Regions from separate parts of the Homo sapiens genome. Here regions 1 and 3 are each linked to region 2. Evidence: fine-mapped expression QTL. A gene starts in region 2. Each other region holds a variant in brackets. All regions are shown on one strand. Distances are between the middles of the regions. Region 1 holds the start of LOC124906226 (a long non-coding RNA gene). Region 2 holds the start of CMTM6 (CKLF like MARVEL transmembrane domain containing 6). Region 3 overlaps CMTM6 (CKLF like MARVEL transmembrane domain containing 6).

Region 1 (5,283 bases), 77 kb before region 2:
ACATTCTGTATCATCTAAATAATGCAAATTAACTGCCATGTTCCTCAATTTAACATTAACATAATTTGATTCAAGACTTACCTTTGGTGGGCCGGGCACAGTGGCTCACGCCTGTAATCCCAGCACTTTGGGGGGCTGAGGCTGGCAGATCGCCTGAGGTCAGGAGTTCGAGACCAGCCTGGCCAACATGATGAAACCCTGTTTCTACTAAAAATACAAAAATTAGCCGGGCGTGGTGGTGGAAGCCTGTAATCCCAGCTACTAGGGAGGCTGAGGCAGGAGAATCACTTGAACCTGGGAGGTGGAGGCTACAGTGAGCCAAGATTGCACAGCTGCACTCCAGCCTGGACAATGAGAGCAAAACTCTGTCTCAAAAAAAAATCTATCTATCTATCTCTATATATCTATATAGAGATAGATATTTATATATATTTGTATGTATTTCAGATAAATATATTAATATATATCTATATATTATATTGATATATTTTTACATACATATTATATCTATATTATATTGATATATATTTTTATATATGTATATCAGGATGAAAATTTTACATATATATGTATATATCAGAGTGAAAATTCCAGTAGTTTATCTGGATAGTCCTCATTTACCAATAGGTGAACTGAATATAGGATGAAGCTGACCCCTCAAAATAATCCTGGGATTTACTAAGGAAGGATCATAAAAGACAAAGTGCTTCTGGATTCCACTTTCACATTACTAGTCAACTTTAACTTTTTGTTCCCAGTAGCAAAAAGTTTAGGATCCTTAGAATCTCCTTAAATATCTTCAAATAAACAACTTTGTAACATTGTATGGTGTAAAAGAATGGATTTATTTTGCTTATAAAAAATTCCCACTGGGCAATTCTTTCATTCACTTTCCCGTGTGAGGAAAAAAGAAACATACATAATGTTTTGGTTGGTGGAGAATATAATAGACTATAATTCTAGGCTTACTTTTAGTAAAAGCAACAAGAAGTCATAATTAGCTCTAGACTAAAGTAGACTAAATTGATATGAATATGAAATCACCTGCAGCTACAAAAGATAGCACATTTCTAAAAATACCAGAGAATTATATTTTTTCCCTTTTTTGCCTAACGCAGAGCCTCCAAAGAAGAAAAACTTAATTACCTTTGTGACCTAGTGTTGGCAGATCTCAATCTATAAAATTAGTTATTAAATATCTTTTCCTTTAGGAAGCAAAGAGGGCAGTAGAGTGTAACACTGGAAATCTGAGAACTAAGTGGTACTAAAATCACTAAATAAAGGTAATGGACTTGAACTTCGGAGTATTTGATTACAAGAAAATTAGATCCTCCAAAAATATGTATAATAAATATGCAATTAACAATACATTAGTCAGTGGACCTTTTTCTTTCTTCTTTTCAGTGGCAAAGAATAGATTAAAACAATGATAACTAAGCACCCTAAAATTCCTATCTGTTTAGTATTGAAAAATGTGTAAGTAGATAATTAAAACACTTAAAGAATGCTTCCAGCCTAAAAGACAAGTGTCTTTGCTTTCCCTGTGCATCTCACTTAACATTAACATAATTTGCCCACTCAAGCTGCTGTATGAGTTGATTTTATAGGTTACTATCCTTCCATTCATCATCCATTTTCCAAGAATGAATATGGATATTGTGGTGAGAAGTTCAGTCTGAAATGAAAGGCAATTCTACTATTACCTTATCCTGGAATTAAAAAATATATATTCAGAGACGGTTATTTCTCAATGATACATTTCTAAGCCAATGAAAAGCAATTTCTTCGACAGGCACGGTGGCTCACGCCTGTAATCCCAGCACTTTGGGAGGATGAGGTGGGCATATCACCTGAGGTCAGAAGTTCGAGACCAACGTGGCCAACATGGTGAAACCCTGTCTCTACTAAAAATACAAAAAAATTAGGTGGCACAGTGATGCACTCCTGTAATCCCACGTATTTGGGAGGTTGAAACAGGAGAATTGCTTAAATTCGGGAGGCGGAGTTTGCAGTTAGCCGAGAGCGAGCTGTTGCACTCCAGCCTGGATGACAAGAGTGAAACTCCATCTCAAAAACACAAACCACAACCAAACAAAAAAATATTTCTTTGTAAAATTTTGTCCTAAAGTATACTTGCATGCACACATACACCTACCAGTACTTTTTTTTTTTTTTTAAGAAAGGTGGGATTTCACATTAGACGTAAAAATAAAAGCATTTTTTTTTTTTTAAGGTGCAGTCTCGCTTTGTTGCCCAGGCTGGAGTGCACTGGTTTGATCTTGACTCACTGCAGCCTCCACCTGCCAGGCTCAAGCGATTCTCCTGCCTCAGCTTCCTGAGTAGCTGAGATTACAGGCATGCCCCAGTATGTCTGGCTAATTTTTGTATTGTTGGTAGAAATGGGGTTTCACAGTGTTGGCTAAGTTGTCCTTGAACTCCTGGCCACAAGTGATCTGCCCTTTCCTGCTTCCCAAAGTGCTGGAATTACAGGCGACAGCCACTGCCCCGGGCACTTTCTGGCGGTTTCTCTGAAAAAACAAACACGTTAAAAGAGTCTATTTCTACTTTCTTTTAGGTATTTCTCCATCTCTCTGTGCTGATGTGTCTGGAATTGACAGGTTCTTCGTCTCACTGACTTAAAGAAGCCGTGGACCCTCACAGTGAGTGTTACAGCTCATAAAGGCGCCGCACGTGGATT[T/C]GCTCGTTGTGACATTCGGATGCTGAGACAGTTTCCTCCTTCTGCTGGGTTCACGGTCTCACTGACTTCAGAAAGGAAGCTGTAAACCTCCGCAGTAAGTGTTACAGTTCATAAACACAGCACGCACCCAAAAAGTGAGCAACAACAACATTTATTGCAAAGAAGGAAAAAACAAACCTTCCCCAGTAGGCAATCAAACCCGAGTGGGTTACCACTACAGGCTTGGGCAGCCTGCTTTTATTCTCTTATCTGGCCCCACCCACATCCTGCTGATTGGTCCATTTTACAGAGAGCTGATTGGTCTGTTTTACAGAGAGCTGATTGGTCTGTTTTGACAGGCTGCTGATTGGTGCATTTACAATCCCCGAGCTAGATACAAAAGTTCTCCAGGCCCCCCACTAGATTAGCTAGATACAGAGTGTCCATTGGTGCATTCACAAACCCTGAGCTAGACACAGGGTGCTGATTGGTGTGTTTACAAACTTTGAGCTAGATACAGAGTGCCAATTGGTGTATTTACAATCCCTTAGCTAGACATAAATGTTCTCCAAATCCCCACCAGACTCAGGAGCCCAGCTGGCTTCACCCAGTGGATCCCCCACTGGGGCCGCAGGTGGAGCTGCCTGCCAGTCCTGCGCCTGCGCCTTCACTCCTCAGCCCTTGGGTGGTCGATGGGACTGGGCGTCGGGGAGCAGGGGGCAGCGCTCGTCGGGGAGGCTCAGGCATGGTGGGCGGCAGGTCCCGAGGCCTGCCCTGAGAGAAGGCAGCTAAGGACCGGCGAGAAATCAAGCACAGCGCCGGTGGGCCGGCACTGCTGGGGGACCCAGCACACCCTCCGCAGCCGCTGGCCCAGGTGCTAAGCCCCTCATTGCCCGGCCAGCAGGGCCGGCCGGCTGCTCCGAGTGCGGGGCCCGCCAAGCCCACGCCCACCCGGAACTCCAGCTGGCCTGCAAGCGCTGCGCGCAGCCCCGGTTCCCGCTCGCGCCTCTCCCTCCATACCTCCCTGCAAGCTGAGGGAGCCAGCTCCGGCCTTGGCCAGCCCAGAAGGGGGCTCCTACAGTGCAGCGGTGGGCTGAAGGGCTCCTCAAGTGCCACCAAAGTGGGAGTCCAGGCAGAGGAGGTGCCGAGAGCGAGCGAGAGCTGCCAGCACGCTGTCACCTCTCACTAAGATATGATGTTCTGTGAGGGTCCACTTGATAAAAATCCCTAGGTGAGAAGCAAGAGGAAGGATAGGTCTGTAATTAGAGGGGCTGGTGACTGCAAAATGAATTAGATACCCATCATTTCATTCATTCTAAGGAGGTACTTAGAATGAGAAAAACATGACTCAAAGGAAAGCAAATATAAGCAACCGTGGGTGTTTGCTCGTCTTTAATGGGATCCCTGGTTGGGTCTGCTGGGAGAGACGGCTAGCAAGGACTCTGCAAATTCTAGCATTATCAGTTTGTCTCAAATGTCAGGAATGTTACCAAAAAAAAAGATTCACATATTGTGTAGAGGATGGGACTATTTAAACTCTGAAGTCCTTTTCAACGCTATCATTTGAATTGCTCAGAGTGAAACTTTAAGGGTCCACTCATCTTGCTTACTTCCTTTTTCTTTTGATTTTGGCTTTTCAGCCAGCATTTATATCAACTGTGACTGCCAGCATTTGGCACCATGGGTGAAGCAGGTTTTATTTGAAAATCTGCTTGTGGCAGCCTGTGGAACTGATATAATAGGAAGCAGCCCAAGTGGTAGCTGCCTTGTTTTGGTTCCCAAACAGAGAAGGAGGCATCCCCAAAAGAAAGAGGAAGTGGTTCTGCAGTACCCACCTCCAGACCTACGGAAAGTTCCCCTCCCAGTCAAACTAGTTTTCTGCAGAGCTCTTGTGTCTGTCCAGTGATCACTTTTCTTGAGATAGAGAAATACCCAATGTGACCTTGAGAAAGCTGATGAGTTTGCAGAGGACGCTGGTCGACAGAGAGAGAGGAGAGAAGAGAAGCAAGCAGAGAGGAGAGACGTGTAGCTCTTGGGAGACAGGAAGCTGGAGAGAGGAGGAGCTGTCTCACTTTTGGCTAGTGTTCCATTTCCCACTTACAAGCCCTGAGTCTCAGCTGAATTAGAAACCAAACTAAAAGGCAGAGCCATCTGGGATACACCCGGGGAATCCCAGTAGGACCTAAGCACTTCCCAGATTTAACACGGTAGTATTATTGATGAGCCTAAGGAAGCCAAGGGCCTTCAGGAAAACATAAATCTATATTTATATAACTTGTTAAAATAGGAAAGGAGTGGGGTGTGTAATATACTTTTAAGTGATTTATATTTTTAAAATGGTTAAGGCTGGGTGTGATGGCTCATGTTTGTAATCCCAGTGCTTTGAGAGGCTAAGACAGGAAGATGGCTTGAGTCCAGGAGTTTGAGACAAGCCTGGGTAACATAGTGAGAACTTCTCTCTACCAAAACAAAACAAAACAAAACAAAACAAACAAACAAAAATCAGCCTGGGTAACAAAGCAAAACCCTGTCTCTATAAAAACTTTGAAAATTAGCTGGGCGTGGTGGCTTGCACCTGTAGTCCCAGTTACTCAGGAGGCTGAGGT
Region 2 (5,283 bases):
TTGGGGCTAGATCTCCAAGAATCTTCCTTTTTAATTAATCTCACAGATGATTCTTCGCCATGTTGGAGTTTATGAATCACAGGCTAAATTTGTGTCTTCTTCTAAAAATGCAAAGAGAAGCAGAGACCCCTAGAGAATTGCATAAGTGTGCCCTAAACAAACCAAGAGGGTTGACGAAGTCTGTTCATCTTCTCTCTTGTCTCAAAGTATCCTTGTTTCTTTGTAACTTCCTCCCAATACTTTATTTTGAAAATGTTCAAACATACAGAAATGCTGAAATAATTGTACAGTGGACACCCGTATACTTCACCTAAATATTACCATTAATATGTTACTGCAGTTGCTTTATTAGAGATCCTTGTTGTTGTTGTTTTTTTAACAATGATTTTTTTTTTTGAGACGGAGTCTCGGTCTGTCGCCCAGGCTGGAGTGCAATGGTGTGATCTCGGCTCACTGCAAGCTCCGCCTCCCAGGTTCACGCCATTCTCCTGCCTCAGCCTCCCGAGTAGCTGGGACTACAGGCGCCCGCCACCACGCCCGGCTAATTTTTTGTATTTTTAGTAGAGATGGAGTTTCACCGTGTTAGCCAGGATGGTCTTGATTTCCTGACCTCGTGATCCGTCCCCCTCGGCCTCCCAGAGTGTTGGGATTACAGGCGTGAGCTACCGCGACCGGCCTGCTTTTTTTTTTTTTTGAGACGGAGTCTCACTCTGTTGCCCAGACCGGAGTGCCGTAGCGCGATCTCAGCTCACTGCCACCTCCACCTCCCGGGTTTGAGCGATTCTCCTGCCTCAGCCTCCCGAGTAGCTGGGATTACAGGCACACGCCACCACGCCCGGCTAATTTTTGTATTTTTAGTAGAGACGGGGTTTCACCATGTTGGTCAGTCTGGTTTCGAACCCCTGACTTCAGGTGATCCACCTGCCTCGGCCTCCCGAAGTGCTGGAATTACAGGCGTGAGCCACTGCGCCTGGCCTATCACAAATCTTTTATCCATCTCTCTAGTCATCAACTCATCTTAATTTTGGATGAATTTCAAAGGAACTTTTAGACATCAGTAGTGTCTAATTTGGGATGATAGTGACTTGAAGAATAATGGGGCAATGAATCCTTGTAGCCCTGGTGAAAATACAGTGGCCTTCCTTGTTGGACAGAATTGGTGGCATCTTGGCCTTGGGAGGACATTCAGAGTGCATGTAATCAGAGACAGAAGGGTAGTTCTGGCTGGTTGTAGGTGGCCCCTGCAGGGCAGTATCTACTTGTCTCTATTCATTTGAATGGGAGCTTTTGTTTGTTACTGGAAGAAGAAAGGGAGGTTTGGGGCCACGGAGAAGATGTAGCAGCTGATGGCAGCAGAAACCCCTTCTCTCTTCCATGGGTTTTGAGACTCCAATGGAGAGATGAGTTAGAAGCTGACGTTTTCTGGGTTAGCGTTTAGCAGCAAGGTTTCGAGTCAGACTGCTTAGGCCTGCATTCCAGCTGCTCCTGGCTGTTTGACCTTGGATATGATTTCAGCCTCTTGGCCTCAGTTTTCTCATTTGAAAATGAATGTAACCGACTTTATACTGTCGAACCTACTTTATATTGTTGTGAACATCCTGTAACTCAATCAACTTCAGTTGCTAAAATATAATTACATTCCTTGACAAGTTCACACAAAATTAACATATGTGACTGTAGCAGTTGGTGACCAAGAAAGAGAAAAAGGAAATGATTTTGAAAAGTGAGCCTAAATGGAATTTCGGGAGACGCGGGAGGGAGCGATTCTGAAAGTCCTTACAGACAACTCATTGTACTTCAAATGAAATACGAATTCTTCCCTTGGTCTGCAAGGCCTCCACATTATCTGGCCTTTGCCTACATCTCCAACATCTCCTTTCCTCCCGTACTTATTCCTAGCGACACAGGCCTTTGGGCTTCAGATTGAGTCAAACTCATTTGGTCCTCGGGACATTTGCACTTTCGTGAAAGGCTCTCCCCAGAACTTTACAAGCCTGGCTTCTCACACTTTGAGTCTCATTCAATTCAAAGATCATGGTCCTCAGAGAGGCCTTTCCTGACCACTCAGTTTAGTAGTGGCCATTTAAGTAGAGCACCCAATTCTCCATCCTTTTTTCCTTCTCCTTCCTCTTCTCCTCCTCCTCCATCTTCTTTTTTTTTTTAATAAATTTATCAAGCCACCAGAAATGCTGAATCCATTATTTTCGTATCATATTTTCACGTCACTTATCACTATCTGAAATTGCTATCCATCTGTTTTCTTGTTTATTGTCTGTCTCTGTTACTAGGGATCCTGTGATTTTGGGTAGTACTTGGCTGTCACCCAAGTACCTAGAACGGGGTTCACTGCACACCGAAAGTACGCAAAAATACTAAGTGAATGAATGTCAGGAGGATGAAAGATGGAGGGAGGTGAGAAATCCATCAAAGGCTCACAGAAAGAACTCAATTCTTGGATGAAAGTCGGAAGAATCCCAACAGCTAACAAGCAAATTTGCTGAGAGGGGGCGGGGCGGGCCAAGGGCGGGGGCGGGAAGGGGCGGAGTCAGGCGGAAGCCGGGGAGAAGGCCCAGGAAGTGACGGCCGCCTCCCGGCTACCGGGGACTTCTGGAGTCCGAGAAGTCAACGGCGCGGTTGCTGCGGCCGCCGCGCTCCCCGGCCCGAGGCGATGGAGAACGGAGCGGTGTACAGCCCCACTACGGAGGAGGACCCGGGCCCCGCCAGAGGCCCCCGGAGCGGCCTCGCTGCCTACTTTTTCATGGGCCGGCTCCCATTGCTCCGGCGCGTTCTCAAGGGCTTGCAGCTGGTGAGTCCGCGGTCAGGGAGGGCGAGCCCGGGCTGGGGAGCGGGGTCTGGCCCGGGCTTGGGAGGCCGCCGAGCTCCTTCGTTTCAGCTTGGTTGTTCAGTAAAAGGAGGTTTCCACACCTCTAGTTCCTTCCCTCTCAGCCTGGGGAAGGGGGCGTTACCCTCCGCCCTTCCGCCGGGCGGCCCCTCAGTCCCAAGGCTCTCCCCATCGGGATCCCACGAACTGGGGCCACCCAGCCTGTTAGGCGGGCTCAGGAAATGCGTCGGAGACCCAAGTCAGCCACTTCAACATCTTTCACTCATCCTCTATGGCGACTTTCCTCTCTTCTCTCTGCTGCTACCCTGCATTATCGCCCACAGTGCCTGTATTTAGACTGTGAAGCGCTGTTTATCTTTCTCTGGCTCTTGCGGTTTTCCTGCTGCGAGCCCATGGGGGCAGTTTAACTTGCTGGACAAAGTCCTGCGATACCACGCGTGGCATTGAGATGTGTGTGTATGTGTGTCCGGTAAATTGTCTTCTAAAAGTTTTATATTGACTGGAAAAGAATTATTTCAAAATTGAGCAATATGGGTTCTAAGTGGAAAGTCAAAAGGACAGCTTTTTGTAAGTATGTGCGGATAGCTGAACTAGGACATGGTATGCATCTTTCCATTTTATTGAGTTTATTTTAAGCAGTTGAAGTACCATAAACCTGTTCGTGAAAACATCAAAGCATCTTTGAGATTTAAATTATTCACTTTACAGTCGTGTTGGCTCCTATGTACTGTTCCAACCACTGATGGTTGAACCAGTTTAGGAAAAATAGAAACAGTTTAGGTTCTATTTCTGCAATAGAACCAGTTTAGGAAAAATCCGAATGCTTATGATGTTTATGAGTTTTGTCTTACTTTGTTTTGTTTTTTAACCATTCTAAGTAAAAATTAGCTCATTGGTTTCCTTGGAAAGAACTTAAATTCTTACAACTCAAATGACCCGAAGTTAAATTCTTAGAACTCTAGTGACCTACTTTTATTGAATAGAAAAACAGAAGTCGGAAAATCGGCACTGCTGTTTAGCGATCAAAATGATCACATCTGCTGATGACTGGGAAATCATTTGAAAGCAAGTGATAATGTGGCCTATGGAACCCAGTAGGATCTGGCCTTATCTTTCTCCCAGTCTCCCTCTAGGTGGTTCCACACTGGCCACCTTTAATTTATTACGAGGCATCAGGGGCTCTTTCCTGCCACTGTTCCTTTGCATAAGCTGTTCCTTCTACCTTCTTCCTTCTTCCTTCTCTTCTCTTGTCAGCTGTCACATGATGATTTTTAGGTATTAGCTGTATTTCTCTGCAGTAAAGCTAAAATTTTCTACGTGAATAGTAGAACTCTTTAGAACAGAAAAGAATATTCATCTGAAGCTTTTTTTTTTTTTTTTTTTGAGACCGAGTCTTGCTCTATCGCCAAGGCTGGGGGCAGTGGCGCAATCTCGGCTCACTGAAACCTCCGCCTCCCGGGTTCAGGCAATTCTCGTGCCGAGTAGTTGGGACTACAGGCACGCACCTCCATGCCCGGCTGATTTTTTTTTTTTTTTTTGGTAGAGACGGGGTTTCGCCGTGTTGACCAGCCTGGTCTCAAACTCCTGACTTCAGGTGATTTTCGCCCTCCGGGCCTCCCAAAGTGCTGGGATTACAGGCGTAAGCCACTGCGCCCAGCCCATCTGAAGCATTCTTGCTGCTCGAAAAAAATCATCTGTATTGGTTTGCTGCCCACAAAATCTCCTGTTTTCAGTTGCCTTTATTATTTTCTTTCTAATAAAAAGTGGCAAAGCTAAAGTAAATTTTCTGATTACCTTCTTATAGTTTAGTAAACTGTAGTTTCGTATCTTTGGAATAGAACATAACCAGTTTCCTTCCTTATTGCTGTTATAGAAGAAAACATGGAACACAACCAGAAATTTTTGTGGTAAATGTTATACTTGGACACAGAGAAGATGAATTTGCCTTAAAAGATCGTTAGACTATTATTAGTTCTCCATCATTCATAAGAAGAAATGGAGAAAAAATAAAAACTAATATCTCTTTATGAAATCCATTTATTTGTTTATGGGGAAATTGTCATGTTACAGGAATGCTTTCTTTAATGTGGAGATTTAAAAGTACTTTTTCATTACTGCCTTTCACTTTGATGGTTGTCTTTTTGTTCCTTTGTTTGTTTTGATAATGTCTTATCTCTTCACAGTAACAGTATATTACAGGAATTATCCAGCAAGTCCCAAGAAGGTTACATATGAAGTCGGTAAAAGTTGTCTTCCAGCCTGGGGCTATAGGCAAGGTCTTTGCCTTAACTCAAATTCTTCCTTTAGATAGATTGGTTGTTTTACTTTAAATGTTTAATTTTTTTAAAAAACTAAACAGAATTGCGAGCTCCAGTAAGGAAACAACTGTAATGGAGAAACCCGTAATCAGAAGAGGAGGTGTTTTAACAAGGGACCTGCAA
Region 3 (5,283 bases), 21 kb after region 2:
GATATTAATAACTTTTTTCATTTTCACCTAGGCTGAGTTGCCTAGTCACGTATTTTCCTTATCGCATCTGTGGGTCAATCTAACCATGCAAATATTTTTGTTTTGTATCATTTTATAGGATTTAATGTTTATCTGTTAACCCTACTTTCATATATTAGCCCTCCACATATAAACATGCACACATAAGGCAGAACATTAATATTTTGTGAGACTTTGACTAATAGCCATTATTCTGGAAGTTTTTCTTTTATAACTTCTTTCCATTTTTTGATGACTTAAAAAAATTTTTTTTACCATTAAAGAGTAGTCGTGTATAAGATAAAATTCATGAACATCTTGTTTATATGAAACATTCTCCAAGCCAAGTAGGAAATGTAAGATTATATTCCAAAATTCTCATATAACCTTTCCTCCTTTTTTTCCTCAGGTGTTTGGATTTATAGCAAGTTTTATGTTCCTACTTGACTTTATCACTATGCTGTATGAAAAACGACAGGAGTCCCAGCTGAGAAAACCTGAAAATACCACTAGGGCTGAAGCCCTCACTGAGCCACTTAATGCCTAAAGACTCTGGGGAGCAGATGTTACCTAAGGTAGTGACCCTGCATTGTGGTGCCTGAGCCCTGGCAGAAGCTCTTGTAAAATTTGTTAATTGTTTAAACCACTTCTTTTGGAGAGCAAGGGGAAGGTCAAGAAGGCAGTTTTATCAATATTGTGTCAGTCACCACAAAGTAGGCCAGATAAGTTAAAAAAAATTTTTTTTTAAATAATAATTGAAACTTATCTCAAATGGAGATTTTGGTGGGAGGAGGAGAAAACAATTGTTTTTAAATCACACAGCTCAACGGTTGATAAATGATTCTGTCATTCTGTTACAGGTCATTCTTTTACTAGGCTTAGCTTCCAAATTATGCTTTATAGCTGTATAAACATCGTGATTATATTCATCTACTTAGAAATTGTTTTATTTTTAAATTAATTTGCTTAGCTGTTTGTTTTGATGCTTAGATTATGTTCTGTTAATGGGAATTTAACATATTTAAGAAACCAATATTTAAAATGTTGGTCTAGGTTTTTTTCCTTAACATATATTACCAGGCTTTACTGTATTTCACTCAGCCTTAAATGTTATAATATTTTTGGATAACGGTTATTAATTCTTTGAGACCTTCGTATAGCCTATAAAATGTATGGGAGATGTTGGTATTTTATGTGTATAAAAGCAACAATATCAGCAACTTCGTGTTTATACTGCACCTTGGTTGTTGATGTCAAGTAAAAAAAAGATTGTTTTGTAACACATAAAAAAATGGAAGAAACTGATACCACACCTAAGGACCAAAGATAAGAAAGACTTTTTGCCCAAGACAGTGAAAGTAATTATAAAAACAAGCTTTGACCACTTACCAAGTATCTGAAGAGATGAGTTCATACTATGATTTAGAAAGTGGTTCAATTCCCCTGTTGGCATATGATTATTTTTACTAAAATTAATACAGCTCTGTGGGTCTTCCTTAGTGTTTTCTTTGAAGCCAATCTGTTTTTTTTAGGACACCAGCCTTTGGTTTTTCATCTGTTCGAGATGCCTCTTCTCTGTCTCCTTATCAGATAGAAATGGAGTCATGTGCTGCTGCTTCATCTAGCAGAGGTTGGCCTCTGGCTCTGACACTTTTTGTCAGTTGTCTTTAGGTGGTCCTGAATCTTGGGCCCTTTTGATTGTGAATACTGTGTAGCAGGATCTTGAGAGTCCTTGTTCTTACATAGGCATTGCTCTAGTTTGTCTTTGGCAAAAAAAAAAAAAAAAAAAAGTAAATATCCAGGGAACCCTGCCCAGACTAATACTGTTGGTGGCATAAGAGAATCAAGCCATTCTCAAGAGATAACTTCATAACCAGAATTGTCTGTTGGCTAGCAGCTGTCACAGATAGGCAGGGCACTTGGGATATGACCTTTCTGTCCAGGTGATTCACAGACTAGACCTTTCTTATCCTCCTCCTAGAGTTTTGACTTGGGACTCTAGTGTTAAGATGATGAGCCCGTGCATCAGGTCCTTCTGCACTTTGGTGGAAGTCTCCCAGGGTAGGTTTCCTATTTGAAACAGTGGAATCATGTTTCCAGTGATAAAGTTTAATGACCTCATCCTTTTTTTTTTTTCTCATCTGCCATTTGTGTGTCTTAGATGGGTTTTAATTGCATGAATGTGGCTAATGTGGTTCTCAGAAATTGGTCAGTATGGCCCAACATAGCTTCTGCTCTGTCTTACTGACTCAATACCTTTAGGATTTGTATCAGAGTTTGGATACTAGTGTTAGTGGTGGTGTCACCACTACTTAATTGGGAGATAATGAAACCAATCATGGATGCTGTTTTTATTGGGCATGTCATCTAAGAGAGGAGAAATAGCTGGGTTTTGGGTCTAATTATGAATAAGGACTGATTCAGAAAACGAGTTTATGGTAGGTAGACTAAAGTTTCACATCAGACTGTACCATTGTGATTTAGACCTATCTAAAATTCAGAGCATATCATCTGGGCTACCTCAGGGTCACCACCCATGTATTGGGCTTAGTCAGGATTGACAGATACATTCTCAGCTGGCCTGTCATATAAAACATACTGTCATTGAGCTTAAGCTCCGCTTGTTCTGAGGTTTCACCTCCATGTGTTTCATTGGTGCAAAAGTGGATCTCTTAGTTGGTCACTTAATTCTTTCTTTTTCAGAAAGATAGTATGTTCACTGGTATATTTGGTCACTCTTAGAACCTTCCTTCACATTGTTTTTTATGGGACCCATGAATGGTTAGCCTTTCTTTTCTATTGTAGAAGGAAATAAATAGGAGTAAAAAGACCATTGTAGTAAATAAGTTCAAGGGGAACTTGGGACCAGAAACCACTGTTATGTACAAAAAAATGGCAAATTCAATAAACTCAAATTTAAAATAATTTTTAAATTAACAGTTATGATAAATTTTATATTTTATACAAATAGATTGCTTAGAATGGTTCTCAAGAATTATAAGAGAAATGAACTCACAGTACAAAAATTTTATAATTACTATACTTGTGTTTTGTTTGGGGGCTGGGAAATGTATTTTTACATTGTAGCCAATCATTTTATATTTGTCAATTTAAATCTTATGGGTCTTTTTTTTTT[A/TTA]TCTCTCTTGATGTCAGATTTTATAGTCTTTTTAAATAAATCCATTTAATTAAAACGTTCTTACCTTTGTAAGTGTTTATTACAGAAGTGTGATGTTTAAATGAAAAGCTGTCTCTGTAGTTGTGGGAGTTGGCTGCACAATCTTGTTGAGTGCCTATATAGAATACTAGATTTTAGATATATCTAGGATAGAAAAGAAACAAATCCATTTCCCATCCATAAACTGTCCCTCTTGTTGGAAAGTTAGAATACACATTTAAACAACATTTTTAGGGAACCACAGAGGAAGACTTACAAATGGCTTTAAATACTTCCAAAGAAGCAATTTAGACTCCTTGTCACATTTCTAGATGTGGCTAACAATGCTAAAAACAAAATAGGCACATTATCTTAGGAACTGTTCAATGATTGGGAAAGTGTGAAGCAAAATTATTAGGGTGGTGCTGGTAAAACTACAGCTATTTGTGTAGTTTGCGAAATTCCTGCCTCCACCCTGTGTGAGAATAACAGGGTCTTTATAGTCATCAAGAACTCACTGGAATTTGTACATTCTTCAGAGTTTAGAGTTGAGTTTTGTTTTGATAAAGAGCATTGTATCAATATGCAATAAGCTGCAAGAAGCAGAAAATCTAATTAAATGTGTCTTAAACAGTAAGAAAAACTTATTTCATAAGACATCTGGGTACATTGGTGAATTCAGTGGCCAAATTTTTCTACAAGTACAGTAATGTGTGTCATAGAAATTGATATAATAAAGGGGGAGGCTGGGCGCAGTGGCTCACTCCTGTAATCCCAGCACTTTGGGAGGCCAAGGCAGGCGGATCAGCTAAGGTCAGGAGTTCGAAACCAGCCAGGCCAATGTGGTGAAACCCCATCTCTAGTAAAAATACAAAATTTAGCTGGGTGTGGTGGCACATGACTGTAACCCCAGCTACTTTGGAGGCTGAGGCAGGAGAATCGCTCAAACCCCAGAGGCGGAGGTTGCAGTGAGCCGAGGTCATGCCATTGCACTCCAGCCTGGGAAACAAGCGCAAAACTCCATCTCAAAAAAACAAACAAACAAACAAAAAAACAACGGGGTGGGGGGAGAAGTATTGTCTTTTCCCCAACATTTTTATATTTAGCTACTTTTTAAAATTTTTGAATTTGTTTGTTTGTTTTGGAGACAGAGTCTTGCTCTATCCTTCAGGCTGGAGTGCAGTGGCGCCATCTTGGCTCACTGCAACCTCTGCCTCCCGGGTTCAAGCGATTCTCCTGCTTCAACCTCCTGAGTAGCTGGGATTACAGGCGCATGCCACCAAACCCTGCTAATTTTTTTGTGTTTTTAGTAGAGATGCGGTTTCACCATGTTGGTCAGGCTGGTCTCAAACTCCTGACCTCAGGTGATCCACCTGCCTTGCCTCCCAAAGTGCTGGGATTACAGGCATGAGCCACGGCGCCTGGCCTGAAATATTTCAAGTACTGGAAGCACAGAGGATAATACCTGTTGTAGACTCCACTCACTCACCTTTAATAGATTATAACATTTTGCCATATTTGCTTCAAGGTTGTAACTCTGGTTCATTCATTTTAAATGCTGTTTGGTATTTCATTGTATGGATATGTCACAATTTACTTATTCTCCTACTGATAGAAAAATTCTAACAGCATTTTCAGCTTTTGACCATCTTAACATTACAGGGAACAAATGTATTTGAACATCTCTTCTTGTGCACATGTGAGAATTTACATGGTGGGTAACTACTTAGAAGTTAAATTGTCTGGTGGGTCAGAAGGTACGTTATGATTTCAGCATGGCTAAATATTTCCAGATGGATCTCCAAAGGGTAGACCCAGTTTATATTTCCCTCAGCAGTGAATGAGGTGCTGGTTTCCCCACTCTTGTAATGCACTTAATATTAGTTCAACTTAACATTTTTGCTCGTCTGGTACTGAAATGGTGCCTCTTTTTTTTTTTTTTTTTGTATTCTTCCTGTTTCTGGTGAACCTGATTGTCTTTTCACTTGTTTGTTGACCTTTATTTCTCAGAAATAGAAAAAATAATCTGAAAATTCATATGGAAGTGCAAAAGACTCTGGATTGCCAAAGCAATCTTGAGGAAAAAGAACAGATCTGAAATTAGCCAGGCG

The links. PIP is the estimated chance that this variant, and not a neighbour inherited with it, causes the effect. A credible set is the group of variants that fine-mapping cannot tell apart.
Region 1: its variant is the best candidate, but not a certain one, in a credible set for the expression of CMTM6 in tibial nerve (GTEx, PIP 0.69).
Region 3: its variant is the best candidate, but not a certain one, in a credible set for the expression of CMTM6 in whole blood (INTERVAL, PIP 0.66).

What each region holds. Positions count from the first base shown.
Region 1 is chr3:32,577,160-32,582,442 of GRCh38, reverse strand. LOC124906226 (a long non-coding RNA gene) reads right to left here and starts at 3,735. Exons shown (of 2, transcript XR_007095860.1): 1 at 3,698-3,735; 2 at 2,834-3,451. The variant T/C (reference allele first, on the strand shown) is at 2,699.
Region 2 is chr3:32,500,131-32,505,413 of GRCh38, reverse strand. It overlaps CMTM6 (CKLF like MARVEL transmembrane domain containing 6), which reads left to right and starts at 2,562. Exons shown (of 4, transcript NM_017801.3): 1 at 2,562-2,806. The coding sequence starts at 2,669. RefSeq lists silencers at 2,462-2,551, 2,622-2,851.
Region 3 is chr3:32,479,242-32,484,524 of GRCh38, reverse strand. CMTM6 (CKLF like MARVEL transmembrane domain containing 6) reads left to right here. Exons shown (of 4, transcript NM_017801.3): 4 at 428-3,213. The coding sequence ends at 565. Among named protein-coding and RNA genes, the nearest start is that of CMTM6, 21 kb to the left of the region's middle. The variant A/TTA (reference allele first, on the strand shown) is at 3,155.